2 linked regions of the Homo sapiens genome follow. The protein of the gene in region 2 binds, or shares a complex with, the protein of the main gene of each other region. Each region holds a gene or a part of one and is shown on either strand. Other genes may lie near its edges. The genes, in order: SIAH1 and CACYBP.

The links.
Region 1: the proteins of CACYBP (region 2) and SIAH1 are in contact, whole or in part, in a crystal structure (PDB 2A25), measured with the Homo sapiens proteins. Residues at the interface, in NP_055227.1 of Homo sapiens: Lys59, Pro60, Ala61, Ala62, Val63, Val64, Ala65, Pro66, Ile67; in NP_003022.3 of Homo sapiens: Leu158, Gln159, Asp162, Ile163, Val164, Phe165, Leu166, Ala167, Thr168, Val176, Asp177, Trp178, Val179, Met180, Asn276.

What each region holds. Positions count from the first base shown.
Region 1 is NC_000016.10:48,372,587-48,387,776, forward strand, and holds the start of SIAH1 (E3 ubiquitin-protein ligase SIAH1), read right to left. Parts: upstream 12,828-15,190; 5' UTR 12,618-12,827; intron 12,284-12,617; exon of another isoform or gene 12,190-12,283; intron 1-12,189. UniProt on the Homo sapiens protein: E3 ubiquitin-protein ligase that mediates ubiquitination and subsequent proteasomal degradation of target proteins.
Region 2 is NC_000001.11:174,992,184-175,007,192, reverse strand, and holds the start of CACYBP (calcyclin-binding protein), read right to left. Parts: upstream 7,247-15,009; 5' UTR 7,013-7,246; coding exon 6,998-7,012; intron 2,580-6,997; coding exon 2,360-2,579; intron 449-2,359; coding exon 352-448; intron 96-351; coding exon 1-95. UniProt on the Homo sapiens protein: May be involved in calcium-dependent ubiquitination and subsequent proteasomal degradation of target proteins. Probably serves as a molecular bridge in ubiquitin E3 complexes. Participates in the ubiquitin-mediated degradation of beta-catenin (CTNNB1).

The sequences.
Region 1 (15,190 bases), on a different chromosome or scaffold from region 2:
GCAAGCTAGAGAAAAGCTGAGGTCGATCTAATAACATAAATAATTCATTTGTGTGAAGCAAAGCCTAAATGCCATCATGGTTTCCACTAAAGCACTTGTATGTCAGTGAAAAAATTAAGATTTCATACGACCACATGATACAGGGCAATTAAGGTATGCTTAACTCAAAAAGAACCTGCCCGGTAACAGTCAATTTCATAACCGTAAGTCAATCCCATAAGTGCAGTTTTAAGACTAAAATTCAGCCTGACAGTATCCAATATTTTAGTGAATCAGTAATTTGAATTTCAATGGTTCTGTGGTTTTGTTTGTATTTAAATTGCAAGTTTTGAACTGTCAGCAACACCTAACAGAGTTGACGGATCACTGGGCTCCTGCCTAATAAACTCTGTTCACCGACTTCACATACTCTTGGTTTTCCTATCTCAGTCACTCCTCAGCTTCCTTTTATTCCTGCTCTTCTCCCCCAAATTATTGAAATTGTAGCTGCCTATAAATTACTGTAATCTCTTCCAAACCAGTCTCTCTGTTTCCATCCTTGTCTCCCACCCTTACACCCTAAGATGTTCTTTTCTTATGTACACTGGTACTTTGGTGATCTCATTCAGTCTCCTAGTTTTAAATTCCATCAACATGCTAAGGATTTCAAAATTTTCATCTCCAGCCCAGATTTTAAAAATAAACACAATGCTCCAGATTTGTCTGAAACCCCAGATTTGTAAATCCAATTGCCCCTTCAGGGGGATGGCCAAAGAGAAACTCCTTATCACCTCCCAAAGTCTCTCCACTCAGAGTCTTCCTTTTTTCAATTAATAGAGACTCCATCCTTCCAGTGACTCAGGTCAAGCGCCTTCGAGTCAGCCTTGATTCTTCTCTTTCACAACATACATCTAAAACAGTCAGGAAATCTTATTATACCTCCCTTCAAAATGTATTCAGAATCCAACCATTCCTCCCTACCTCTACCACTACCATCTAGTCCAAGCCACCAGTATCTCTCATCTGGATTACCACAATATCCTCCCAACCAGTCTCATTGTTCCCAGCTATGTCTCCCACCCTCACCACCTAATATGTTCTGAGCACAGCAATTAGATTAATTAATCCAGCTCCGTTTTATATCAGATGACATAAATCTCTGCTCTACACCCTCCGCTGGCTACCCATGTTAGAGTAAAAGCTGAAATCCTAAAAATAGCCCACAAGGGGCCATTATGTATAAGGATACAGTATGGTGCTGTGTTCCCATTACTCTCTGACTTCATCTCCTACTTTGTTCCCCTTTACTCACTGCACTGACTTCCTTGTTCAATGGCAATGCTAGGTTGCTCCTTTGGGCCTGTGTCTTAAAATACTTTTCTCCTGAATATCCATGTGGCTAACTCCCTAACTTTCAAATCTTTACTTGTTACATTCAATGACACTCACTCAGACCCTCTATTTAAAATAGTAAGCGGCACCCTGCCCACTGCCCCTCTGTGTACTCCTAAATCTTTGGCCCATCTCACGCCTCCTACTCTTTTCCCAGCAAAGAATGTATTATCTTCTAACAGACTACATAATTCACTTATTATTTTTTATTTGTTGTTATAGGCGCCCACTGTCCTCAATTGGAAGGTAGGATTTTTGTCTGGCTCAATTATGTATCCCAAAAACTTAATACAGTGCCTGGCACATAGTACAGACTCCAATAAATATTTTTTGGATGAATAAATACATCAGAAAACAAGAACTTTGGACTTTCAGGCAGCAACATCCAAAGTCAGAAAGCAACAGAACAATGCTTTTAAAATTCTCAAAGAAAATTATGCCCTAGAATTCTATACCCAACTATCTCGAAAGTGTTGAGGGCAGAATGATGATGCAGTTTCAAAATACTACCTCCCCTGGATATGTTCTTAGGAAGCTCCTGGAAGATAAGCTCTTCAAATACAAGGGAAATAACCAAGAAAAAGAACGGGGTTACAATAAACAGAAGACTGCATCTAGGAGAAAGGTAAAGAAACTACTGAAGATAATGACAACTTTATGCTAGAAGAGGGCAACTGAAGGCATCCAAACAACCTGATGGAACATTTAGACAAGCGGCAAGGAATGTGAGGTAGCATTAGCAGTAAGCACAGAAGAAAACAAAGCCAAAATAGGAAGGAAGAAAAAAGATATTACCTACAAAAATAAAAACTAAAAAATGCAGAGAAAGAAGTAATCAGTTTATTACATGGCTCAAACTGAATAACTTTGACAGTCAGGATAAGCAAATAAAAAACTGCAGTGTTACTAACTAAATTAGGAATGTAGGAATGAGAAGGGTATGCACATGTGATGGGGGCAAGAAGAGTTAAAGTCACAAACGGAAATCAACAAAGAAAGCCAAAAACTGAAATCTAGAAACAATAGAGGCGTGTTATTTAAAGACAAAGATAAATGCAAAAATAATCAGCTAAAAGAGGTCAAAGTGGTGGCTACGGCAAGATAATTACTTGAACCCGGGCACGGAGGTTGCAGTGAGCCAAGATGGTGCCACTGAACTCCAGCTAGGGCGACACAGTGAGACTCTAAAAAGTCTATCCTCTAATGTTGGCAAAGGAGTGAGTGTGTATGGATGCCTGTTTGTAATAGTAAACTGAAAACAGCCCTATCCTAAGAAAGTGGTTAAATTATGGTCCACACAACAGAATACTGTGTGCTGCCTTCTTTAAATAAAATGGACTCATACATCAGACTTACTAACATGTAAGAATCAACTGTTTAAACGGGGTGGGGGGAGAGAGGCGAGGAGCAGTAGCTCACGCCTGTAATCCCAGCAACTTTGGGAGGCTGAGACAGGTGGATCACTTGAGGTCAGGAGTTGGAGACCAGCCTGGCCAACATGGTGAAACTGTTTCTACTAAAAATACAAAAATTATCCAGGCATGGTGGTGGGCACCTGTAATCCCAGCTACTAGGGAGGCTGAGGCAAGAGAATTGCTTGAACGCAGGAGTTAGAGGGTATAGTGAGATGAGATCAGGCCAACTGCACTCCAGCCCGGGCGACAGAGCGAGACTCCGTCTCAAAAAAAAACAAAAAACAAAAAACAAATTGGGGGGAGAAAAAAAGCTACAGAATATACAGATTACAATTTCATTTAGGTTAAAAGAAAAAAATAGGTAAGTATAATAGATATGCACATTGATGTATATATTTTCATGTATGTATGCATGTATGTAGCATGTAATGAAACAGAAAAGAAACTGGAAGGACATCCAAACTGCAGAATGTAGTTTAATGGTTTAAGATGCAGGATCAGACAAAGGGAGAGCAAGCCTGGAATTAGAAACCAGAGAGAGATGGGACCACTGAACTACAGGCACACAAAGCATCAAGAACTCCAAGAAACAGAGACTGTCGGCACAAATTCCATCGTTTGAAATTACAGTACACAGTTCAAACATATATAGTTCTTAGAGATGATAATCATGAGAACTACAAGAATTTAGGTCAGATCAAAGAAACTAACTTTAAAATATCTTTGGCTGAGTAAAACAAAAAAATGTGAAGCACACCCAGACTACACCAAAATGTCTATGATGGTTACTTTTTAGTAATCAGATTATAAATAATAGTTTGGGGGTGAGGAGGGATTTCGGTATCTCTCCAATGTTTCATAAAATTATTGGCAACAAAAAATATTACACTTAAAAATTTTAATGCACATTTTATCATATCTCCACATTTTCTGTTAATGAATTGCTAGTAACTTCTACAGAACATCAAATACAGAATTCAAGAGCTGATTTTCTCCTTGCTTTCACTTTTTTTCTCAAAATTCCTCAAATAGATGGATACTTACAGGAAACTTAAAACCAGCCTATTCACAAAAAACTACATATTTTGTAGACATTTTATTTTATACTATAAAAAAAAATCTTATTTATTTTTTCTTGAGACAGAGTCTCGCTCTGTCGCCCAGGCTGGAGTGCAGTGGTGCAATCTCAGCTCACTGCAACCTCCACCTCCCAGGTTCAAGCAATTCTCCCGTCTCAGCCTCCCAAGTAGCTGGGATTACTGGCGCCCGGCACTACACCCGGCTGAAAATATCTTAAACATTTTAAAAGTTAACAAAATTTATGATAGCCCCCCTCCCCTCACAAACTCAAAAGAATACAGTCTGCAAAAATTAACTAACGTCTGTATAGACAAGATATCCGAAGTTGTTCTAATAAAGCTAAATCAGGGCCCTTGACAAGTTTTTAGAAGTAAAGCTACCTTACCCAACAAGCCTGAGTTCTGGCCAAATTCAAAAGGGCAAAATTTAATGTGAAATACAAAGGAAGGAAACCAGGAAGAAGTTTTTAACAGGGAGAGGATTACTTCATTTTGTCAAATAAATTATTGAAGTAATCTTTCCAAGGTAGAGTCTTTGCAGAGAAGCTAGTATACACTTATATTTACTGTATCAACCATCACTAGACCAAGGTGGTCGATGTGACACTAATAAATAACTATACCAAGTACGCTGAAATATTTTCTACAAAATTCAAGACTGGCATTAAACTCCTTAAGAAAATATTTCTCACTGGCAAGATCTGTTTTATAAATATAATTAGTTCTCCAAAGGTTTTTCTCTTTCTAGTTTATTCCATGTGCCCGGACTCCCTGTTCAAAACAAAAACGAATAAGCAAAAAAAACCAAAAACAAAACAAAACAAAAAAAACAAGTCAGTTCAAACATGACTGGGCAACCACAAACCTAATGGAAGGTTTCTGCCAGCTTTATTCTGGTCATATCTTGTCTGTAACATTAAACCTAAAGTTCTGGAAGACTTTTTTTTTTTTTTTTTTTGAGACAGAGTCTTGTTCTGTTGCCCAGGCTGGGTGCAGTGGCACCATCTCGGCTCACTGCAACCTACACCTCCCGGGTTAAGTGATTCTCCTGCCTCAGCCTCCGAGTAGCTGGAATTACAGGGGGATGACACCATGCCCAGCTAATTTTTTTATTTTTAGTAGAGACAAGGACAGGGCTTCACCATGTTGGCCAGGCTAGTCTTGAACTCCTGACCTCAAGTGATCCACCAGCCTCGGCCTCCCCAAAGTGCTGGGATTACAGGCGTGAGCCGCCACGCTGAGCCTCCTGAAGATTTAAGGAAAAAAAAAATCGTTCTAGAAATACTGGTCAGAAAGTATTTGAGATGGTCAGGGAAAAGAATAAGACTTAAAAAACAAAAGAAGGGCCAGGTGTGGCAGCTCACACCTGTAATCCCAACAATCTGGGAGGCCGAGGCGGCAGGATTGCTAAAGCCTTTGAGTTTGAGACCAGCCTGGACAACATAGTGAGATCTCGTCTCTAATAAAAATAAAAATTATAATAAAATAAAATAAGAAGTACTGGGACACATGGCTATTCAGCTGGTAACTTTGTCATGGATAAGCAAATAATACTCCTTAATCACACAAAAAAACATAATGTTGAGTGAAAGAAGCCAAACAGAAATGAAAGAGTACAGGCCGGGCGCAGTGGCTCACGCCTGTAATCCTAGCACTTTGGGAGGCCAAGGCAGGCAGATCACCTGAGGTTGGGAGTTCAAGACCAGCCTGACCAACATGGAGAAACCCCATCTCTACTAAAAACACAAAAAATTAGCCAAGTGTGGTGGTGCATGCCTGTAATCCCAGCTACTCGAGAGGCTGAGGCAGGAGAATCGCTTGAACCCGGGAGGTGGAGGTTGCCGTGAGCCAAGACTGTGCCATTGCACTCCAGCCTGGGCAACAAGAGTGAAACTTTGTCACAAAACAACAACAACAACAACAAAAGAATGAAAGAGTACAAACTCTACTGTTCCATTCATATAAGGCACAAAATTAGGCAAAATAAATCTATGGTGTAAAAAGTCAAGAGGTGGTTTCCTGTGAAGGGGGCGGCTCCTTGTTTCTTCGATCTGGGAGGTGGTTACAATAGCGTTCCTTTTGTGAAAATGTCAAGCTGTACACATGATTTGAGCACTTTTTCCATATGTATTTAGGCTAAATGTCAACAAAATAGTTTACATTTAGAAAATAAAAGTCCTAATATTGCTCTAGGTATTCTCCTAGAATCTCCTTGAACAACAGCCAGATGCTAATATCAGCTAACACTTCACAGCATCTCTCCTCTCTTTCCCTCTGCACAGTTCTTCAACCTGTCTCTCTCTACTACCCATTTGCTCCAGCAACACTCCTCAGGTCCTAGAGCAGTCCAAATTCATCCCTACTTCATGGGGCCTTTATCTGGCTGCATCTTCCATCTAAGATGTACTCCTTCCCCCTTCAAAGGGCGAGCTCCTTATCCTTGGACACCAGGTCTCCCTTCCACCCCACTGGTCTCTTCAGCACTTTGACTCCTTTACAGTACACTTCACAATTTGTAATTCTGTTTCTTTCTTTCCTCACTAGAAGGTAAGTGGTAATATTTAGAGAAGTAACTTACTCAACAACTAATCTTTTTACAACACTTGCTGTGTTAGGCAATGTGCTTTTAGATGCAAAGTAGGCAGTGTCTCTGCTCTCATGGAACTTAAAGTCACAAACACAACTAATAAGTGATAGAGCCAAGAGACACATCCAGATCTGACTCTTAAGGGCTTGTCCTCTTAGCCACTTAATTATACTGACACTCTAGCATTAGGACATGGGGGCTGGGGGGGCGAGGGGAAGGCAGGGAACAGCAATATACTTAATAACTGTTCATGTACTAATAGAACTAAGGCTTAGAGAGGTTCAGTAATCTACCCAAAGTAGCACAAATAGACATTTCAGAGGCTAAATACAATCATGACCAAAGGCACAGAGATGCTAAAGCAGTGTTCAAGGAACAAAAGAACCCAGTTGGCCTAGGTAGGGCAAAGGGGAAACACAGGCAATAAGGCTAGAGAAGTTTGTAAGAAACACTATGCCTTGGTAAAAACAAAACACAACGAAAAGGCTAGAAGAGTTTAATAAGGACAGTGTGGAGTCAGTCGCTCAATAACTTTTTACTGAGCACCACCTATGTTCCAGAAAGAGTCCTAAACTCTTGAGACACAAGGATGACCAAGTCGTCATAGAGATTACAGTCTATCTGGGGAGGCATACAACTAAAGAAAAATTATAATTCAGGAGGATATGTTACAGTGGGACCGAGCAGAGTGCTATGGGAACACAGAGATGACATCCAATTCAATGTGCAGAGTTCACAAAGAGCTTCTCAGCTAGTGATGTCCAGGCTGAGATAAGAGAGCTTAATAGGATGAGAGGGGCTTGCAAGTAAAGTCCAAAATGGCAGGGGAGTAACAAGAGAGGCCAGCTCAGGAGAGGCTATGTACTTACGAACCATATCAAGAACTTAGAACTTTACACTGAAAGCCTTTTAAGTCAGGTTCACCTATTAGAAAGCTCACTTAAACTGCAGTAGGAAAACTGACTGTAAGGCTGGAGACCAAAAGGAGATCTCTTAAAGGTAGAAGGAAATGAATGTAAATGTGAAGAAGAGAGGCAATGCCAGCTTTGAGATAGAGAACAGAAAAAATATCTGCAAAAGACGTATCTAAAAAAGAACTGTTATCCAAAATATGCAAACCTGGCCGAACACGGTGGCTCACGCCTGTAATCCCAGCACTTTGGGAGGCTGAGGCAGGCAGATCACTTGAGGCCAGGAGTTCACCAGGCTGGCCAACATGGCGAAACCCCGTCTCTACTAAATATACAAAAATTAGCCGAGCACGGTGGGCTCGTTCCTCTAATCTCAGCTACTCAGGAGCTACTCAGCAGGCTGAGCACGAGAACAACTGCTTGAGCCTGGGAGGCGGAGGTTGCAGTTAGCTGAGTTGGCGCCACCGCACTCCAGTCTGGACAAGAGTAAGACTCTGTCTCCAAAAAAACAAACAAAAAAAAAACAAAAACTCACCAATAACAAAACAACCCAACCTAAAAAAAAGAGTCAAAAAGACCTTAACTAACTCCCCACCAAAGAGATATACAGATAACAACTAGCATATGAAATGATGCTCCACATCACATGTCATCACGGAAATGCAAATTTAAAACAGTAAGATACCACTACAGGCCAGGCGCAGTGGCCCACGCCTGTAATCCCACCACTTTGGGAGGCCGAGGTGGGCGAATCACTTGAGGTCAGGAGTTCGAGACTGACCTGGCCAGCATGGCAAAACCCCGTCTCTACTAAAAGTAAAAAGAAAAATTAGCCGGGCGTGGTGGTGTATGCCTCTAATCCCAGCTACTCAGGAGGCTGAGGCAGGAGAAATCACTTGAACCTGGGATGTGGAGGTTGCAATGAGCCGAGATCACGCCATTGCACTCCAGCCTGGGCGACAGAGTGAGACTCCGTCTCAAAAAAAAAAAAAAAAAGAACGGCTAAAATCCAGAACAGTGGTAGCTCCAAATCCGGCCGAGGATACAGAGCAACAGGAACGCTCATTCATTGCTTGTAGGAATGCAAAATGGTACAGCCAATCTGGAAGACAGTTTGGCAATTTCTTACAAAACTAAAGATACTCTTCACTTTGGGAGGCTAAGACAGGCAGATCACCTGAGGTCAGGAGATCAAGACCAGCCTGGCCGACATGTTGAAACCCTGCCTCTACTAAAAATCCAAAAATTAGCTGGGCGTCATGGCAGGCGCCTGTAATCCCAGCTACTCAGGAGACTGAGGCACGAGAATCACTTGAACCCAGGAGGTGGAAGTTGCAGTGAGCTGAGATTGTGCCACTGTACTCCACCCCAGGGCACAGAGTGAGACTGTCTCAAAAAAACAGCAGCAAAACAACTAAACTCTTACTATCTGATCCAGCAATCACATTCCTTGGCATTTACCCAAAGGAGTTACAAACTCATGGCCACACAAAAACCTGCAAATGGACGTTTACAGCAGCTTTATTCAGAATTGCCAAGACTTCGAAGCCAACCAAGACATCCTTCAGTAGGTGAATGGATAAACCAACTGTGGTACATCTAGACAACAGATTATTATGCAGCCCTAAAGAAATGAATTACCAAGCCATAAAGACGTGGAGGAAACCTAAATGCATATTACTAAGTGAAAGAAGCCAATGTGAAAAGGCTACATATTTTAAAAGCCCAGTTACACATATGACATTCTGGAAAAGGCAAAACTATGGTGACAATAAAAGAAAGAAGATAAGTGGTTGGGGGTGTGGGGACAAATAGGTGGAAGTCAGAGGATTTCTAGGGTGGTGAAAGCATTCATGTATGTCATTATGTATTTGTCTAAACCCATAAAATGTACGCCACTATAATCTTTGGGTAATAATGGTGTGTCAATGTAGGTTCCTCAATTGTAACAAACGTACCACTTTGGCGGGGAATGTTGATAATGGAGGAGGTTACACGTGTAGGGGCAGGGGCTACACGCGAAATCTCTTGTCTCTTCTACTCAAGTTGCTATGAACCTAATGCTGCTCTAAAAAATAAAGTCAATTAAAAAAATCTGCATAAGGGGATATATGGGTCTACATCTCAGCAGGCAAAAAGATTGGAGGCCAGGCACAGCAGCTCACACCTGTAATCTCAGCACTTTGGGAGTCCGAGGTGGGCGGATTACTTGAGCCCAGGAGTTTGTGACCAGCCTAGGCAAGATGGCGAGACCTGACCTGGTCTCTACAAAATAACTTTTTAAAAAATTAGCCCAGTGTGATGGCACATGCTCCTAGTCCCAGCCACTTATGAGGCTAAGGTGGGGGGAACCTTTGAGCCCAGTTGGAGGCCACAATAAGCTATGACATCACCACTGCACTCCAGCCTGGGCAACATAGCAAGACTATCTCAAAAAAAAATAAAAATAAAAATAAAGATCTGAATGTCATTAGAATACGCACAGTAGTAGGTGAGTAAACAAATACCTACTGAGCACTAGGTACTGAGGATATATATTAAAAACACAATTCTTGCCCTTATGCAGCAGATATTCTAGTAACTATAGCCATGGGAACTAAATCATTTAAAGTGCATTAGACATCCTGCTATTTTGAAGAATACTATTAAGGATACTTATTGTAAAAAGGAAAATTTCCTTTTTTGGCGGGGGGATGGAAGGTTCTGGGGATTTCATACAGATTTTGTTGAAAGAGAGGGCTGTACAAAAAATATCTAGATTTTAACATTTCACAAAGCGAATATGGAAATTCCACAAAATTCTGTTAATAAATCTCTTTAAACAAAGAACCTCCAATCTTTAAAAATTTTGTAAATCAACTGCTTAAAAATACAATTTAAGCAGTCACCTAAAACTCTGTAAATTACTAAACTTTGTTACCCTAGTTATGTAAGATCTGTTTTCAAAACACCATACTCACTGAAAATCCTATTTGTTATTTTATGTCATTACTGACATAGCTAGATAATTCCTTCATAACTCCAATTTAACCTAATCATGCTTTTTAATTACAGATATTAAGAAAGAATATTTCTCTACAGCAATTTCGTAAGAACTTCCCGAAGCTTAGAGGGAATAGATTAATATTTAACAGATGTAAAATGCATTAACATTGTTTCTGAATTTGTACTTTGTGGAATACTTATCCTGAAAAGTTATCAGTTTCACATCTATTATACGTATTTCAGTTTAAAATATTAAATGTTAGTAAATTATGTTGGAAAGATGCCAATAACGAAAAAAAAACTGTTTGGCATAAACTTTGGGGAACAAATTCTGGATATAATCGCAACTAACCATCCAAGATTACAGAAATCTGTATCTTTATTTAAATTTTCAGAATGAAACACTACACAACCAATTTGTGTAATCTACTTTGAGTCTCAAGATCTACCAGTCTAAAGTCCTCCTAACAACTAATTAAAATCCTCTCCACCATAATTTGAGCCAACAACTCCCAGATAAAATTACCAGACCATTACATTTGCCACCACACTACATTCTGCTCTTCAGTAACTTCTAAAAGTGATGGTAACACCATAGATACACACTCAAGTATTCACTGTCCCACTTTTCTAAGTTGGTTAACTCAAGTCCTTGAAAGTGAACTGATCAATAAATCTAAACTAGCTAAGAGAAGACCTCATTTTAATCAATTTGATTTTTTTTAATCACAAAGATATAGCCATTCAAATCCCCGGCCACAGCAATTTCCAAAATGCCACCATCTCAGAAAGTCTGTTAATTTATCATACAAATCTCCTTGTCCTTTTTAACAACAAAATGCATTGAAAGAAAAAACCCAGCACTAAAGATCTGTGACCTGATTTCACAAATTCTGGTCTATGCACTTTCATCATACCAACACATCATGCCAAGAAAACCTCGTAAGTTTAGCTATTAAACTACAGTCTTAACAGTAAGCATTTGTTGAGAACTTAGTATGGGGCTGCCACTGCTTTCAGTCCACCTATTGTCATCTCATCAATTCTCAACAGGGCTTGAGGTAGATACTGTCGTTACACCCATTTTGCAGATAAGGAAAGCGAAGCACAGAGAAGTATCTGCCCAAGGTCACAAACCAGTGGAGCAGGATTTGACCCAAAGCAGACAGTCGGACTTCACAGCCCGTGCTCTCAACATCCAACTGCTGAAGAGTTAACAATTTACCCTTGACAGCCGCTATAAGCAAAGGTAAATGCTCAACTGCTAGGAAGGGACAGTCAGAACACCGTCCCATATCCAGTATCCATGTCTCTCTGTTTGTTTATGGCCTCTATGACTTTGGCAAAAGAAGTACACACAATCTGATTTTCCGAACACCCAAGCTGGACTTTTCTGAATGTCCGAGCAAACAAATTATGTATCTTTCCAGGAACGGGCAGACAGCGAAAACGAACCTACGCATCGGAGTGGCCCAGGTTATTCACTTTAAGTTATAAATTTGGGAGAGTTAAGAAAGGACCCCAAACTACCCGGCAAATGAACCCTAGGAAATGCCAGGTTTATAATAAGCTAGAGCTTCCCCGGCACGCCGTTCACGCGCTCTCCTCTCTAACGACATAAACAAGGGAGGAGGCTGCATTCTTCCCACTGCACAATGAAGCCTCCGGCCGAAGCGGCAGGAAGAGCGCAGCCCCGTCCCGGACGGCTCCAGCCGGGGGTCGGGGGCAGAGAGCGGAGGCCGAGGCCCGCCGAGCGGCGCGGTGCGGCCCGGGCCTCCGGGCGCCGCGGGGAGGAGGGGGAGGGAGGGCAGGGCCCCGGCAGCTGCCCGCACTCAGCTGACCTCCGCCATGTTGGCCGCACACCCCGGGACCCTCCACAACAAAGGCCGGCACGAGGGCGCGGGGCGCGCCGGGCGCCACCCCCGGCCGGGCCCGCCTCCCGGGCGCGCGGGGGCCGGGCCGCCGCCGAGGCCCTTCCCCCGCCCTCGGCCCGGCCGCGCGGGGCCGACCCCCGCCGCCACCCCGCCGGGCCCGGGGCTCCAGGGGCGGGGGCGAGCCGGCTTGCGAAGGCTGAAGGCAGGGGAGGGGCGGGGGGCGGCGCTCGACCGGGCGGCCCGACTCCGGCCGAGACAAAGGCGCCGCCGCGCCGACTACTGCCCGCGCCCCGGCCGGGCCGCCCTTCCCGCCCTCCGCCATTACCGGGCCTGGGCGCCCGCCTGTCGGAGAGCCCCTCGCCGCCGGCTCCTCCCTCAGGCCGGGCCCCACTTACCTGTGGGCGGAGAGCGCGCCTCGGACCCCGGTCCTGGCACCAACGCGCTCCGTCGCCAACCCCCGCCACCGCGGGCAGCGCCACCGCCTCTTCCCGGCGCCGAGACCGACGGGACACCCTGGGCCGCCGCCGCCTCTCGAGAGCGCGCCCCGCAACGGCCGCCCCGGCTCCCCCCTGGCCGCCGCCGCCGCCGCCGTTTCGCGCGTCCTCGAGCCCGCCGCGCGCCCCCGCTAAATACCACACACTGCGGCGGCGGCCATGAGGAGGCGCGGCCCCGCGCGCTGGGAGCCTGGGGGGGCGGGGCTTTCGCGGGCGCGCAGGCGCACAGGCGTTGGCGCGGCCGGCGGCGGCCTCCGCGGGCGTAGCTGTGCGGGTCTCCAAAGGCGGCAGTAGGTGCGGGGGCTACTCGGCTACCGTTGCTGCGCCCGTGCACCGCGCATTCAACGGATCCTGGCACGTGGCGCTCTGGCCCGCGAGAAGCTAGCGCTTGCCCGTCGGCTCAGGGCAGCTCCTCCCGCGGCGCTTTGTTCCGGGGCCGCGTGACCCCCCCGGCTCCGGCCGGAGGGGTCGCCCAGCGGGATGCGAGCCCCAGGCTGGCCGCCGCCGCGGCCTTGTGCCCTCCCCCTTGTTTTGTCTGCTGATTTAGCCCAGCGCCTCCACGGATCCTTCCCAACTCCACTCAGTCCCAAAGAAAAAGCGGCTGCCCTGCCCGCCGACCGGGACCCCACCCCTAAAGAGAGTCCCAGCCTCTCCCGAGGTTGAGCCGCTCCTCAGCAACAGCGGGACGAGCTTCAAAAGCTTGTTTCAGCTGAAAAGTGGGTAATGGGGAAGCACGCGTTTTCCTGTGTCCATGCTCATCTGGAAAGTCCCTAATTAGGGACTCTGCATTCCACTTCTTGAAATAATAAAAGGAAAACATCACTTGCAATTCTTTGATGGGTGCTATGAGCAGAAGCAAGCATCTGAGACATTTACAAGCCCTAACTGGAATTCCATGTAAGATCTATTAAAATGGTATTCCGTCCGGACGCGGTGGCTCACGCCTGTAATCCCAGCACTTAGGGAGGCCGAGGCCGATGGATTACCTGAGGTCAGGAGTTCGAGAGTAGCCTGGCCAACATGGTGAAACCCTATCTCTACTAAAAATACAAAAATTAGCCGGGCGTGGTGGTGCACGCCTGTAGTCCCAGCTACTCGGAGGCTGAGGCAGGAGAATCGCTTGAACCCGGGAGGCAGAGGTTGCAGTGAGGCAGAGATCAGGCCATTGCACTCCAGCCTGGACAACAGAGCGAGACTCTGTCTCAAAAAAATAAAAATAAAAATAGAAAAATCCCATACCGGGCACGTATGTACAAATTCCCAGTGTATGATAAAGTTTATATGTGCAAAACACTAGTTTACAGTATTCCTAATTACATGATTTAAACTGCAATTTTACTTTCACATTTTTGGGGAGAAGTTATAGCTCCTCAGTACACGGGAAGGTCAATAGAGTTCGGTTCACTTCAGTTTAGAGGTAAATTTTCCATTTTTACAGACTATGTGCTTGGCATAGCCATGTGGCCTTGACCTGGTCGTGAAGGGCAGAGGAGTTCTGTCCTGGGCGAGGAGCAGCTCTGGGGTGAGATGTGTTTCTCGCCCCCAGAACCCCTGGGCCGCTCTGCAAGCAGTGAAATGGATACGGACTAAGAGAGAACTTGCCAACGTGGCGATTAAAGTTCTAAACACCCGGCTTTGCCAAAGTCAGATTTTGTCCTCCTTATCCCGCATCCCTTCCTCTACCCAACAGCATTTGTCCATCTGAAAATAACAGTCTGTCTCTGGCCCACTGCTGACAGTCGAGGACTTACCTTATAAACTAGTGGATTCTCTTAAACTGCAGGGGTGCCCAGGACACAGTGTCCCCTGAGGATGCCGCACACCAGTCTTGAAGTGCTGGATCGTTGACGTCAGGCACCCAGAAGCAACTTCTGCCTCTGGAATTCTCAAACGTGCTTTTCTTGGCTTAGTTTGTGCCTGCTCTCCTCTAGAAGAGTCCAAGTTACTTCTTACTTTCCCCACTTCCCTTTTATACAAAACAAATTTAATCGGGTTAATTCCATCTCTGAGAATTCCTACCTAGATTTGGGCGGGGCTCAATCTGATTTGGTTAATTCTGGGTGGTAGCTATGGGTGGGACATAAACATCACCATTATAAATTTAATTTACTCCCCCTCTCAAAAAAATGTACCTTCCATTTGAAAGAAAATAGCTCCACTGTGGGGGTAACTAAGCACCTTTTCTGAACAGGGAGTTGACTCTGCTTCCTTGACAGTTTATCCATAGAAAAGCATTTTGTAAACTGTAAAGCCTATCCAAATAATCCTCCAATTGATGGGATTTCAGTAACGGTGACAAATATTTTCAGGCCACATCTGGATAGGGAGCCTTCCTGGTCCCCTCAAATCACATCAAATGGTAATTCCATCTATTGCAATGGAACATAACGCTCTGGTCCTGCATCTGGCCCGTAGTTAAGGTACCAGTGATGTAAATTACTTTCCTCTTATGAATAAAACAGGCACTGGCCAGG
Region 2 (15,009 bases):
TTGAACTGCCTTCCACAGAGATGGGTTTCAAGAGATTGTTCACAATCATGGAGTAACTCTTCCCATTTAGATTCTTTACCAAAAGATCAAATGACCTGCAACACAATGGTGAATACATCATCTTTCTAGTTCTATGAAAGGTACCCTTACTCCATAGTTCTTGTGGGAAAAAAGCTGCTGGCTTTATTTCAGGGTGTGCATTTGGCCAGTTAACGCTCACCTCTTCAAAGTAGTTGTAAAGGATAATTAATTCTAAATTTAAGAATTTTAAAAACTGCAAAGAAGAGAGTCTCAAGATAAGGCAATGTTGACTGTTAATTCACTGTCTTTCCCATTATAATGAGAACTCACCTCTCTGTGAAATGCACCTGCACATTCTCAGTGGGAACTTGATGAACTCCAGTTAAGGTAATGTAGATTTTCACAAACTTATCTGACTGATCCCATCCTGGCAACGACAACAAAAGATGGGACGTAAGTAAGCCTCTGAAACTATCTTTAGAACAGCAAATGCACATGGCTCATAAGTCAGGAAAGTAAAATTATGAAAATCCAGTCATATAAACATGAAAAAATTTGAAATATAAGAAATTTTCTAGGTTGAGAAATGGAGCCTCAAAGCAGTTAAGTACTCTACCCAAAGCTAGGCATCTAACAAGTGGTAGAATTCAGATTCAAATCCAGGTTTCTGAATACAAAACCTATGCTCTTTTTATCCCTCAGAATAAAAATATGATCACTAAATACATTCTTTAAGATTAGTTCATTTACAGCTTTTATGGAAACAATTTTGTCCGACATCTAAATATTGGTAGTTCTCCACTAAGCTGGATGGCTAAGTATCAATACTAATTCCATAACCATTTCTACTTCTGTAAGTAGTCAAACAAATGGAATCCTAGCTCTCTTAATTCCTTTCCAGGGCAAAGTAGAATGTAAAAGACTCCAATTCTTCATCCAAATCTGACAAACCTACTGGTATCTGTTAAATGCCATTTCAGTATGTATTATCAAACTACCAGCACGTCTCTGACCTAGAAGAACTCTGTCAACATAAAAGACATATATATAAATACTTCACAAAATACCATCACATTTGTAGAAAATAAAAAACTTCACAAAAAAGCATCTTCTGTTTATCAAGAATATATACATACATATCCCTGACTATTGCTCACTTAGTCCTATAGAATAGAAACATGCCCCATCCTCCATGACGTTTTTCACATTGCATGCCTATATCAAACATCTCATGTACCCCATAAATATATACACCTACTATGTACCCTCGAAAATTAAAAAGAAACAGTGTTGATGAAAAAATGCCCTAGTGGGGTCCAGAGAACTTCATTTATTAATAGTTTCTTCCCATTCAGTCAGTCCATCCTCCGGATTGACAAGTTTCTCCCTCAACACAAATCTATGTTCCTGGTTAAAATACCATAATCCTCAACACCTTCAGACCAGTTTCCTATACTCAACTGAGTACACGGTGCAATTTCCTATATTACTATATAGTACATCTCTTAAGCACGACATACACATGCTTTTCACTATTAACAATATTCAAAATAGATCATGCCTTCCAACTCTCTATTCACATTCTCTGCTCATGCTGTTCCCCTCCTTTTTGACTTGCTGAATGTACGACTCACCCTTCACACTCAAATCTCTCTAATTCTCCCTGTTCCTCACCTCCAGAATTATTTCTTCAGCTATGTTACCTATTATGTGCTAGACATTATTAGCACAAAGAAAAACAAGACTGTCCTTGCTCCAATGAGAGCTCATCATTCATATTCAAGTTGCGCTGCCGCCAAAACAAAAAACTGTATACACCATTGAAGGAAAACAGTATTACTACATTGTTATACTACGAGTTATACGTCAATGTCCCAACCACAACATGAGCAAGGACTGGGTCTTAGTCACTGTTGTGTATCCGTAAGTCAAAGCACAATAGTGATACACATTAGGTGCTCAAAAATATTTCCTGAATTTAACTGGATTCCTCTCCTCAGTTAATTGTGGTGGTTGGCAGAGTGAAACATAAAACATGATTAAAAACCACCACCACCACCACCACCACCAAAGCTGTGTCTTATACTGAACAATTTCAGAATAAGTTCCTTCCTTGTTGTTACATTTTGTAGTGAATCACCTTACTCTTGTTAACAGCTTCTAGAACGCATCCTTTCCTATTTATATCTTAAAAAAGTTTTATTAAATAAAAACTGATGGGTCTTGCTCCAAACCACCAAAAACACAGACTCAAAACTCATTGGGGATGAATTTGTTAGACCACTATGAGGAATAGGTTGCTCGGAGGCAGAACTGGCTATAGGGAAGCAAGTCATACCATAATTACTGATTTTCACCGTATAGCCCGTTGTAATGGGAGCAACCACAGCAGCTGGTTTTTCATTATCAAGAAGTTCTGCTTTCTTCTGTGATTTCTGTTGCATCTTGTTCTTGATTTCTGTCTCAATCTTGGATTTTTCAGCTGTAAGGGCATCACGTACTCTTTTCCTAGTAGCCTTTTCCAGCAACACCTTTACCTCTTCTAGATCTTTCTGTAGCTGTGTTAAGACAAAAAATAAGTTAGCTATGATAAATAAGGAAATGGCTTGATATTGTGCGTATCACTCATTTCAACTTACTGAAATAAGCACTAAGAATTAAGAAGTTCATCTAAATTTTCTAGGATTGAGTTGCAACTTCAATTCTTCCATCTGGCTTATTAACTGTAATTAACTCAAGCTTCCTTTTTTTCAAAAGGAAAACTTTGAACAATCTTGAACAAACAATAAATAGGTCTTCAAACCTAAATTTTCCAGTTTATGTTTTAAAATATTTACAAGAAACGTCTGCGACCTAAAAAGTAAAACAAAGAACTTTTTTTTGACAAAGGATTCATAGATTTCCTTGTAACATCTAATCCGAGTGTCATTAGATGTTAGACACTTTTAAAATATTTAAGAGATGAGAGAACATGCAGTGACCATGGTAAAATGCTTTTATAGCAAACTTAACTGAGGTAATGAATGCTCCACTTTCTGTCACTGATTGGTCTTCATTATCTTCCCACCTCAAATACCTCACATAAAAAAAGTCTTAATTTTTAAGACAAAAGATAAAAAAAAAAATTTCTGCTTTTGAGGAAAAGTCTTGCTCTGAAGCTGGGTCAGTCTTACACTCAGAAGTGTAGGAGTTGGTTGCACAGAAGGTGACAAAAGACCGAAAATGCAACATACTCTTGGAAATTATCTTTTGAAAAAGCCACCACGTTCTCATTTTCTTCTCTTGCCAATCCATCATCTATTAAAGTCTACTACTTTCTACTTTCTAGAGATAGAGGCAACATTTTATGAAATTCAAGAGTTAAAGACAATGTTAGAAAATTATTGAGCCTAAGTTTTTTTTCCCCCAATTACCCTCTGACATACTGCAAATACACAAGATCTTTCCAAACAGCTGTTTCACTTTTCTTACAATAACTTTACACTCTGGCTTGACACTACCAACTTGACCAAAAAAATCTTGTGTCACAGCTTGATATCAAAAGCTCAATTTAAAAAAGTCTTTTAGTGCTTTATAACTCAGAATATCAGACGCACAACAGAGTTTGAAAGCCTGTTTCTTAATAGTCTTATAAAATGCAATAACAGAACTAATTCTTTTCTTTTACTACAAGTCTTTTGTTATCTCATTTAACTCAGATGCCCTAGTTTTGCCTATCTATAACAGATGACATGGTATAAAAAGTTCAACTCTGGCCAGGTGCAGTGGCTCACACCTGTAATCCCAGTACTTTGGGAGGCCAAAGCGGGTGGATCACTTGAGGTTAGGGGTTCGAGACCAACATGACCAACACGGCGAAAGCCCGTCTCTACTTAAAATTCAAAAATTTGCCGGGTGTGGTGGCACGTGCCTGTAATCCCAGCTACTCGGGAAGCTGAGGCAGAAGAATCGCTTGAACCCGGGAGGCAAAGGTTGCAGTGACCCGAGATCGCGCCATTGCACTCCAGCCCGGGCAACAAGAGCAAAACTCGGTCTCCCAAAAAAAAAAAAAAATCAACTCTGCCCAACCCTCTTGTCCACACTCTCGACCCTTCCAAGAACAGCTCATATTACTATGACAAAAAATCTTGCAAACTCATCTTTTGAGCATAGAACCAAAATGTTTCAGTTCAAAGTAATATTTTTATTGTAATGGTTTCAAAAAAACGCTGATTCTACAACTCCTAATTCATAATAAAAATATTGAAATGTAAAATGAAATATATTAAGTCTAAGCAAGAGGTTTTGCTTTTTGACTGAAATAGGAATACTTTATCTAGCAGAATGAGAAAGGTACTTCGAATTAGGCAAGGGATTCCCCCAATGGCTGAATTCCCAAGCCCTCTTTATTGCCAGTTTTGACTCTAAAGTACTCTTTTTATTATGAAGTATCCACTGAAAAAACTTAAAACTGAGACAGTTCCTCAGTTCTGTTATTGGCAGACTTGAAACCAACAAAGGTGATTCCTTTGATGCTTTTTCTGCACAAATACTTTAAGATGTCCTAGTTTCCTATCTAATTTATCATGTAATTTTCCTTGCCTTCTTGGCATGTGTTTGTTTTACGTATATAAAAATTTTATTTCTCTTTTATCCCTACCCATAAGGCATTCAAGCTTTATCTTCCTATTTCCTAATTTTTCACTAGGAGGCATTAACACCAATGTGCCTCAAAAATGGGCAAAGGAATTCAACACACATTTCTCCAAAGACACAGAAATGGACACCAAGAACATTAAAGATGCTCAACATCTTCATCATTGGGTAAACGCATATCAAATTCCCAAGATGCCACTTCACACCCAGTAGGATGGTATCATAAACCGAAAAAGAAAAATAAAACACCCCAGAAAATAACAAATGTTGATAATGATGTGGAGAAACTTTCAGAAGCTTCAAACATTTCTTACAGGAATATGATGCAACCACTCTGGAAACAGTCTAACAGTTTCTCAGAAAGTTACCATATGAACCAGTAATTCCACTCCTAGGTATATACCCCAGAGAACTGAAAACACATCCACACAAAAAACTTGGATACAGTACTCGCAGCAGCATTATTTATGCTAGTCACGAAGTGGAAATAAGGCCAGGCGCCATGGCTCACACCTGTAATCCCAGCACTTTCAGAGGCCGAGGCGGGCGGGCGGATCACTTGAGATCAGGAGTTCGAGACCAGCCTGGCCAACGTGGTGAAACCCCGTCGCTACTAAAAATACAAAAATTAGCCGGGCATGGTGGCGCGCGCCTGTAATCCCAGCTTCTCAGGAGGCTAAGGCAGGAGAATCCTTTGAACCCGGGAGACGGAGATTGCAGTGAGCCGAGATTGCGCCATTGCACTCCAGCCTGGGCGACAGAGCGAGACTCCGTCTCAAACAAAGAAGTGGAAATAAATGTCCATAAACGGATGAAAGGATAAACACAATGTGCCACATGCATATAATAGAATATTATTTAGCCATAAAGAGCATGTGTACTGATACACGCTACACCATGGATGAACTTGAAAATGTTAGTGCTAAGTTGAAGGAGCCAAAAAACAAAAGGCCACATACAGCGTGACTCCATTTATATGAAATGCCTACAATAGGCAAATTCACAGAAAGTACAAGATGAGTAGTTGTCAGGGGCTGAGGGAGGAATGGGAAGCAATTGTTTAAAACACACTACATGGTTTCTTTCTGGAGTGATGAAAATGTCCTGAAACTAGACAGTGGTGATGGCTGCACTACACTGTGAATATATTTAAACAAAAAACAAATACCTGAATTGTACACTTTAAAATGGTTAAAAACTTGAATTTTATCTCAAACAAAACAAAAATCAAGTGCCCTCAAATGTATATTTCTAAGTGCCTAAACTGAGAACGATCTCTACTTTCAAGAGGACTAACACTGAGCTATCCACCTGCAAGACTGTGAAGTTATCTCCTAGGGGCACATAGTACCCAAGACCTACCTTAAAAGACTTGTCACAAGATACCCAGATTAATACTGGAACACACAAACCTCATAGTTTTTCTTCATTTAAAGAAAAGATTTTGAGTTTAAAAAACAAAAACAAAACAAAACAAAAGCTTGGGACTCCCCAGTACTTGTTTTCATAAAGCAAATCTAGTTAATACACACCCAACACTTAACTGTGAATAACTGTCCCGTCTTCACCTCCCACTTACGCCAGGAAATGAGCAATACAAGTACTATCATTCCCATTTTCTAACTGAGCAAACTAAGTCTCCACAAAATTTAATTCTCCAACGTTCAGAGTTTACAGAGCTTTAACACAGGCCATTCGCTTTCTTACTATTAATTACAACTAACTTTCCAAGTTATTTATTTTAAAAATCACATACAGCAGATTGCTGTTTGCCAATCACTGACTTAAACACCTAGAAATCATATTTTTTAACAACCCTATGAAATGGATGCTACTGCGACACAGAGAAGCTAAACAACTTGCCCAGAGTAACACAGCTCCTCGTGTGTAGAGAAAACCTGACTAGGAGAATTCAAGTGCTAGCACTGAGAACTCACCTTCCAACCGCCCTCTACCAAGAACGACACTCATGTTTGCACCCAGCTTTGCTTGAATGAAGCTTCCTGTCCACTGGCTGGGAAACCAGGGCAGAAAGGGCCTGAGGAACACGCGCAAAGGGCCGCTCTCCCAGACCCACTCCCCGCACCGCCTGCACGGATAATCGCCGCACACCCCCGCTCGAGCCCAGCAGGCGAGTGGGGTGCGAGGTCGAGTGGAAGCGCTGGGGAGCCGACGGCGCAGCAAGGGGCGAGTGAGGTGTCCCCCGGGAAGGCGGCGCACTGACTGGCGCGGGACCGGGTGGCCGCAGGGCGGCTCAGCCCACGGAAACGGCGGTAGGGCGGGAGGCTGGCGCTGCAGCTCCAGCCGGGGGGCATAAGGAATATGGGGCCGGACCACTTACCTCTTCTGAAGCCATGGGGGCTGGGTCAGGCCGAAGTCCCGAGCTGCAGCCGCGCAGAAGGAGGAACAGGAAACCCCGCGCCGAGCCCTCAAACCGAGCGCAGACGCCTACCCGCACGAGTCGCGGCGCTGCAGCCTGCGCCCACACCGACCCTGCGCAAGATCGCGGCCCGCCTCCCGCACGCGACGGATCTCGAACCTTCGCGAGGCAGCCGCCGCCACCGCCCACCGCGAGCACGCACAGCCCGCCAAGCCTGGCTCCACCCACCCTTCCTCGCCTCGCCGAGCCTAGCCCCACCCCTCCCCGCCCCGCCGAGTCTGGCTCCGCCCGCCTGCCGAATCTCCTAGCAACGCTCAAGTCTCGCGAGCGAACCGGCAATCCGAGAAGAGTAATGTCTTGCTCTCCGCCCTGACAACTTTTATGTATTATAATTTGACCGCGCTGGGCCACGCTGCGCAGTCGCAGCTCGGAACCGCTGCGTTAACCCAGCCCCGGAAATAACGTACCGATCTTCGGAGTCCAAGTCGGAAGTTGACTAGAGAGTCACCTGCTTTCGTCCGCTCTAGGACACCAGACACACCAGGCCGCCATGTTGTGTAAGGTTAGTCTCTCAGCCTCCGCGAGAAGAAGGCGAAAAATGGGGAGGAGCAGCCTGGTTACTTTCAAACGAGAAAGAACGGATATGTTAAGCGTGGAGGGCTCCTAATGGTAGCGGTTTGATTTTCAGTGAGTTTGGCGCGGTGGAGACGTCACCGCGGTCTAACAGTTCCGACGTGGTGGCGTCATCACTGGCCGCCGTAGGAGGTGGAGCTACGTTGGCCTCGTGACCGGGCCCTGTAGCGGAAGCCCAGGTCAAGGCCCTAACAAAAGGGCCCGCCTATGGCCACAGTTTCAGGCCCTCCTTTCAGTCATGGACTGTTGAAGCACGATTTCCTGGTGCTTTCGCCCCTTTCACCGACCATTTCAAGAGTCCGTAGTTCTCGCCTGGGTTTGGATTCGGTATAAGTGAGCCTGTTTACCATCAAAGAAAATGGTGAAATGTCTTCTGGAGACGATGTTCTCTTCTGGTTCTAACCCTGTCACTCAGTGAGACCCCCAGAGAAGCCTAGTTTTCAGATTATTCTAGTCCTTGGCAGGCTCAAGATGTCAACAACACGGTTGGAAACAACCCCTGAGAGGTCACATAGCGCGCACTCAGCTTTACAGATCGTCCAAGGCAGCGACCCCTGAGAGGTCACATAGCGCGCACTCAGCTTTATAGATCGTCCAAGGCAGCAATTAGAATCAGCAACTCGGAGAGGAAAAAAAGCTGTTAGCGGAATGGAGGCTGACCATTATCTGTAGTAAAGAATCGGAAGTACAGTACAAAAATAAATTACCGAAACGCAACATGCGTGAATTTCACACAAAAAAATGAAGTTGAGGGAAAGAAGCCAGACATGGAAGAGTTCATATTGCGTGGTTCCATTTAAAAACTAGCCCATGGTGTTAATGAGCATAGTGGGGAGGACAATGACATGAAAGAGCCACCAGGGGGCTTTTGAGGTTCAGGTAATGTTTCTTGATTTGGACACTGATTATAGATAGGTGGGTTCACTTTAGAAATCTCATTGAGTTGTAAACGTATATTTATGTACGTAGTTTTTTCTGTAGATTATGCTTAAGGCCCGGCGAAGGGGAATTTGCCCAGGTAATGGAAATATTACACCGATACATAGAATTGTCAAAGTTCATGGGATGAACTCCTAAGAGCTGTGTATTTTATCGTATAAATTTTTTTAAGTGTCCAACCAATAGCCTGGAATTATTAAGTACATAATTAAATAAAAACAAATATCCCATGGACCTAATGCAGTGAACAGTTACCTCGTTCTCTTAATTGCTCAGGCTAAGGACTCATACCTGAGTCTTCTATCTCAGGCCTTACATCTTATATAACAAGCCTTACTGGCTTAATCTTCAAAATATGTAGCGAATTTAACGAGTTCTCACAACCTCTGCTTCTACCACCTGACGGGGTTTGGGACATGCTACCCAAAAATATGGCACCTAGACATATTGAATACTTTGAACTGAAGGAATTTGAGAAAGAACATATGCAGGAATGTCTCTAACTTTCTTGCACCTTTCTGCTCTGAAGCAGGACGTAATACCCTCATGTGAGAATTGCCCTGTCTATACCTGGAATAAAAGTAACATCTTTATCTCTGAAAACACAGGGACGTAGAGACGAATATGAACATCAGGCCTTGCTAAGTTTCCCCCAGTTTATTACCCTTAGATCACAGTCTTTTAGCCCCATCACATTTTCCCACAATTCTCCATTCTTCTTCAAACCTACTCTAAACAACACTAAGGTTAACTATTTATTCGGGTCTTCATTTCTTTATGAAGTTTCCATGTTATGTAAAACTAACATTAATATTTATGCTTTTCTCTTGTTAATTTGTCTTTTGTTACAGGATCCCCAGCCAGTGAGCCTAAAATGGGTAGAAGGAAAAGATATTTCTTACCCTACGCACCCAGGTCCAAGTCATCATTATTTTGTCTGAAATTTATCTTCCTAACTGATTTCTCTGCTTCCCCATTGTGCCTTAAGAGTTAGTTTTCCACAGAGCAGCTCGAGATATCTTTTCAGATCATTATATCCCTTTGCTTAAAAACCTCTAACAGCTTCCTATTAGGCTTAGAATAAAGTACAAACTCCTTAATGTGAACTTGAGTGTTTTACGTATCTTATCTCACCTTTATGAGCTTCATGTCAGAACCCATCTCTCACCACTCTTCCTTCCCCGCTCCCTGATTTAAACAGTCTGGCACTTTACTTATTCATTGAACCCACTGGGTTTGCTCTTGCCTCCAAGTCTGTACCCAGCTTTCTCTCTACCTGTAATCCTCTTCCTCTAGGTCATCACACAGATCGTTTCTTCACTCTATTTAGGTCTTTCAGAAGTAACACTAAGGGAGGCTTTTCCAGACAATATTATGCAAATATAAATGGACATGTGACAAATACTTTATTCGACTTATTAGTTACTGAGAGTGTATTTGAGTAGCCAGGTATTTATAGGCAATTTAACAATGTAATGTTAGTATAAGGTGGCAAGGTTAGATATAAACCTGTTAATGTCTCACAGGGTAATAAACTATAACTTTTGGTGTTATCTGTTCCACTGGAAAGGAAGTAGGGATTTGCATTCTTACTGGACAAAAATCTACAAGTTAATGTATAGATTCAGTATAGGACTTTTAAATCAATAGTGAACGATGAAATGAACAAAGTACAATCCCCTAGTCCTTGGTTTGACACTGAAAGGACATGCCACTCACCTTTTTGCCTTGTTTCCAAAGTTTGGAATAATTTTCCTTTCAAAATGAAATTATTTCTCATTCAGTTGTCCTATTGCAGGCAGCCTTTACTGCTTCCCCCAGTTAATGTACCTGTCAAGCTTACTCATGATTTCCTAACTGCCAAATTCAATGGATATTTTTAATTTTTTTTTTGCTATGACTCATACTGTTCCCTTCGGGCTTGTCAGCAGATAAATGACCTTCTGGGGACTGTGCAAAATATGGAATGCTTAATGAATTTGTGTGTTATTCTTGTGCAGGGGACACAACAGTCTTCTCTGTAGATTACAGTTTTAGTGTATGTGCTGTTGAAGTGAGCACTTCTGAGTAATTTTGATTGTTTTACTTTTTATGTAAAATTTCACATTGTTTAAAACACCAGATGGGGGCCAGGCATGGTGGCTCATGCCTGCAATCCCAGCACTTTGGGAGGCTGAGGCGAGTGGATTGCTTGGGCTCAGGAGTTTGAGACCAGCCTTGCCATGTGGCAAAACCTTGTCTCTATAAAAAATAGAAATATCAGCCAGGCATGGTGGTGTATGCCTGTAGTCCCAGCTACTTGGGAGGCTGAGGTGGGAGGCACTTGAGCCTGGGAGGTGGAGGTTGAAGTGAGCTGAGATCACGCCACTGCACTCCAGCCTGGGTGACAGAGCAAGACCATCTCAGAAAACAAACAAACAAAAAATACCACATGGCCAAATGAAAGATGTCTGTGGTCTGAATTTGGGCCAAAAGCTGTAATCTTACAGTCTTTGATTATTTTTTAATACATGCTGAATTCCAAGAGGAGCTGACAAATCTCTTGAGATTTCACTTGGGTTCCATGGATTCCCAGCACAAAATGCAAATGCAAATGAGATATGATTGGGATTCTCTGCACACTATCTCCACTTTCATAAGTGCCTCTGAAGTTTAGTTTGAATTTTATAGTATCTCCTACCTTGCTGTACCTTAAAGGACTAACAGCAGCTACCTGACCCAGGATTAGCCAGTCATATTTTTTCCAGAATTTGTAATTGGAACAATTGAGATGGTAGTCTTCTGCTGGTAGTTTGAAGAGAGGATATGTAAACTTGGTAGCTGTGTACTTAGAAGCAGAGAAAGCCTGTTTTCAGAGAGAAGAATGAAGCAGGTAAGTCATCTGGAAGGACAAGCAGAAGCACAATTTTGGGAACAGTTGCTTTCAGAGTCCTGATGGCATTCCAGCCCCTTGTCCTAGTGCCAGTTCAGGCCCAAGTGTTTGGCCTTTGGGACCTATGATACAGATATCCTATTTCCTTTTAATTAATTGCCTCTTAAAATTACTATTATTAAGCTAGCTTGCAAGGGTTTCTGTTACGTGGAATCAAGGAACCTCAGTAGAGAGGAAAATGAAGCACTTTGTGGTGGTGCTGCACAGGGTATCATTTTGCAGGGTATATACTGTGTGTTTTCTACGTTGACTGGAGTCTGGGGTCAGGTGTAAGAAGTGTTACATAAACATTGGGTTCAAATGAGTCAGAATAAAGTCAACTAAAAAAATAAAAAAGACATACATGGACTTCAGAACAAATGTTTATTACTGCTTAATGGGGCCAAAGGGGCAACACAAAGCATTGAAAACATCACTGGCTCACAAAAACAGTCACCTTGTTACCTTCTCAGTTGCATTTGTTTATTTCACAAGGCTTCATTCACACATAAAAACAAGATACTAATCCAATTCAAGTTCATAACGATTATAAAAGTAAACATTTGTTGGGACAATGTACAATAAATTGCACTTTTTAGACAAGCATTACATTTACATTTATAGAGTGTACTATACATAATACATGGAATTACGGAAACGTCTAATTGGTCATTGTTTATAGAGGAAGAGGCTGATCACTAACGTTTATTTTGTAGTTAATTAGTACTGTTCAGACTAATCAACTCCTTTATTCTAGAACCTGTTTTCATTAGAGATGCCATGGACAAAATAATGGAATTCATAAAAATAGACAATTCCAGAATCTCTACTACCTCCTCTGCAAGGGAAAGGTAGGAGTTAGAAAGAAAGGAAGTGGGGCTGACTGAGAAACTTTGTCCCTCATTTGAACTAAGGATCCATGCATTATGCAAAATACCAAAAATAGAGAAACTGATACAAAAGGCTTTTGGGACATCTTGGATCTGGGACCATCTCCAGCCTTATTCTTGTGCTTTCATGACACCAGAGTCTTTCGATGCATTTATATTCTCACAATTCAGTCCATATATTTTATCCCATATATAATATATAGTTATTAAAAGTTATACAGTTTAATGGAAAAGATTTTACATGTTAACTAATTGCCAATGAAAAAGGAAAATAACTTAAAATGTTCACTTTCTACTCAATGATTCTTTTTTCTTAAGCTTTTCAGAATACCACTAATGACAAACCAGAGATGGAGGTAGGAAGAATGGGATATATTAATGAAATGTTTTTATAGCAGGCAGCAAATTCAGGTGGAGATAAGCTTGACATATGTAGTCTTTTAGATGCAAACTGAGAAAGGAATGCCAGACAGCTGACTGCAGTCACTAAAATCTCCTATATGCCCACTTTTCTCATTACAACTCAAGATCAGCATCTCCTATTGAGGTGCAGCCAAGGTTGAAGTCCTCATTTTGGTCACTTTTGAAAGATAAAGAATTTGCTAAGGTAAAGGGCTTTGCCTGTATTAAATGGAAGCCATTATGAGAGAGGAAGAATGTGTTGGGACAGTTCTAGTTCAGTGTGACTATCAGCATGGCGACGAGAAAGAGTTTTATATCTGGTTGTAGGAAACAGGCTGCAGAGCTGTGGTCTGGCCTTCTGGCTTTCATCATCATTTCTTGAAATCTCAATGTGTATTTGGTTGTGTGGTACCCAGGTAAACAAAAGCAGCAGAGATACTCTATATAAAATTCTTCCAATTAAACACACATACAAACCTAATAGTGTTCAAATCATACAACAGAATTTCTTCACACTCATTTGTAATTGGAGAAAAGGAGTCAGTATTTTGGAGTGTTTTTAAGGGCAAGTTATATAATATAATCATCTTGCTAATCAAGTAAAAGTGTTCTTTCCCAGAAGATAAAACAAAACCAAGGCATTTAATTTTTTAAAAGTTTTTTCCCTTAAAGGGGCCCCCCTAATCAGGCAGGTACCTAAGTGTTTGATGCAAAGGTTGGTGGGAGAGTTAGTAGACAGATTTTAGTGAAAGTATGAAGACTTAAACCCCTACATCAGTTACACATGTGATTCTCCTGGGTGACTGGCTCACTCCTTTAAAGATGTAACTCTATCTCCTCTGCCCAAATCTGTATTGTTTTCCGTTGGTTTTCTCACTTCAGCTAGGAAATAAAGCAACTAGTTATTAACTGGAAAATATTTTAAGAAAATGGAGCAGGGGTTGGAGAAAAATAAATATTAATACATCATAGGAAAAAAATGAAACAAGATACATACTATTAAATATCCCCACATCCATACAAAGGTTGCTTTTCTACTTTACTCAGGACATTTCAGAAAGCCAATGAAGAAGTACTAATTTAACAGCTGGGAGAGGGGCAGAAGACACTGGTTGAATGGCATTCCTATTAGTGTTCCTGATAGGCACTCATAAATAAACAGAACATTAAGTAACAGAATTTCTTTGCATTAAATTATATGTAACTAAATAAAACCAAATTTTGACATGGTTCAGGATGTGGGAAGCTAGCAAACATATGCACTGCAAAATCCAGCTTGGTTTCTTTCAGATTTAAAGACGTGTTTAGATTCTCAAGATACAAAAGCTGATGAACTGAATTATGAAGTTGAATTTCATTCATTTAATTTTTTCCACAGAATTTAATGAAAATAGAAATGATCAATTCTTAGATACTGCAAATATTAGATTTTCAGAGGAATGTTTTGTACAGAGTGCATCCTAGCAAAGGATGAAAAACACTAGAATGTTTTGAAACTTTCCTGGATATTTGGCTGGTTAATCTCTTCTAAGTGAAATTCAAGAGAAGAGATGCAATTCTCAAATATATCTCAAAATAACTAAAATTAAAACTAGGAGTTACTTCATGCTGGGATGCATGAGTTTTCCAACAATAGACAGTGAAGGACATATTGTTTGGAATATTGCTATTATAACATATTGTATGAACAATCATATCACATACCAAATTCTGAATTTTCTTTGTTTCTAGTCTTTACTATTGCTACTGACTCAAAGGCATTGCAGTGAAGGAGAGTTTAGGCTTATGGTACCAACAGGCATACCCAAGTATGATATGGGGCTGGAGAATAAAAAAAAAAAAAATATGTATTGCCCTCGTAATCTTTTGAAAGAGCTAAAAGAAAACTCAAAAGATGGACTTATCAAACTTGAGAGGTATGTACCTGGTGATTTTTCGAGACGGAATTTTGCTCTTGTCGCCCAGGCTGGATGGAATGTAATGCCGTAATCTTGGCCCACTGCAACCTCTGCCTCCTGGGTTCAAGTGATTCTCCTGCCTCAACCTCCCGAGTAGCTGGGATTACAGGCACCCGCCACCAAGCCCGGCTAATTTTTGTATTTTGCAGTAGAGATAGGGTTTCACCATGTTGGCCAGGCTGGTCTCAAACTCCTGACCTTAGGTGATCCACCCACCTCAGCCTCCCAAAGTGCTGGGAT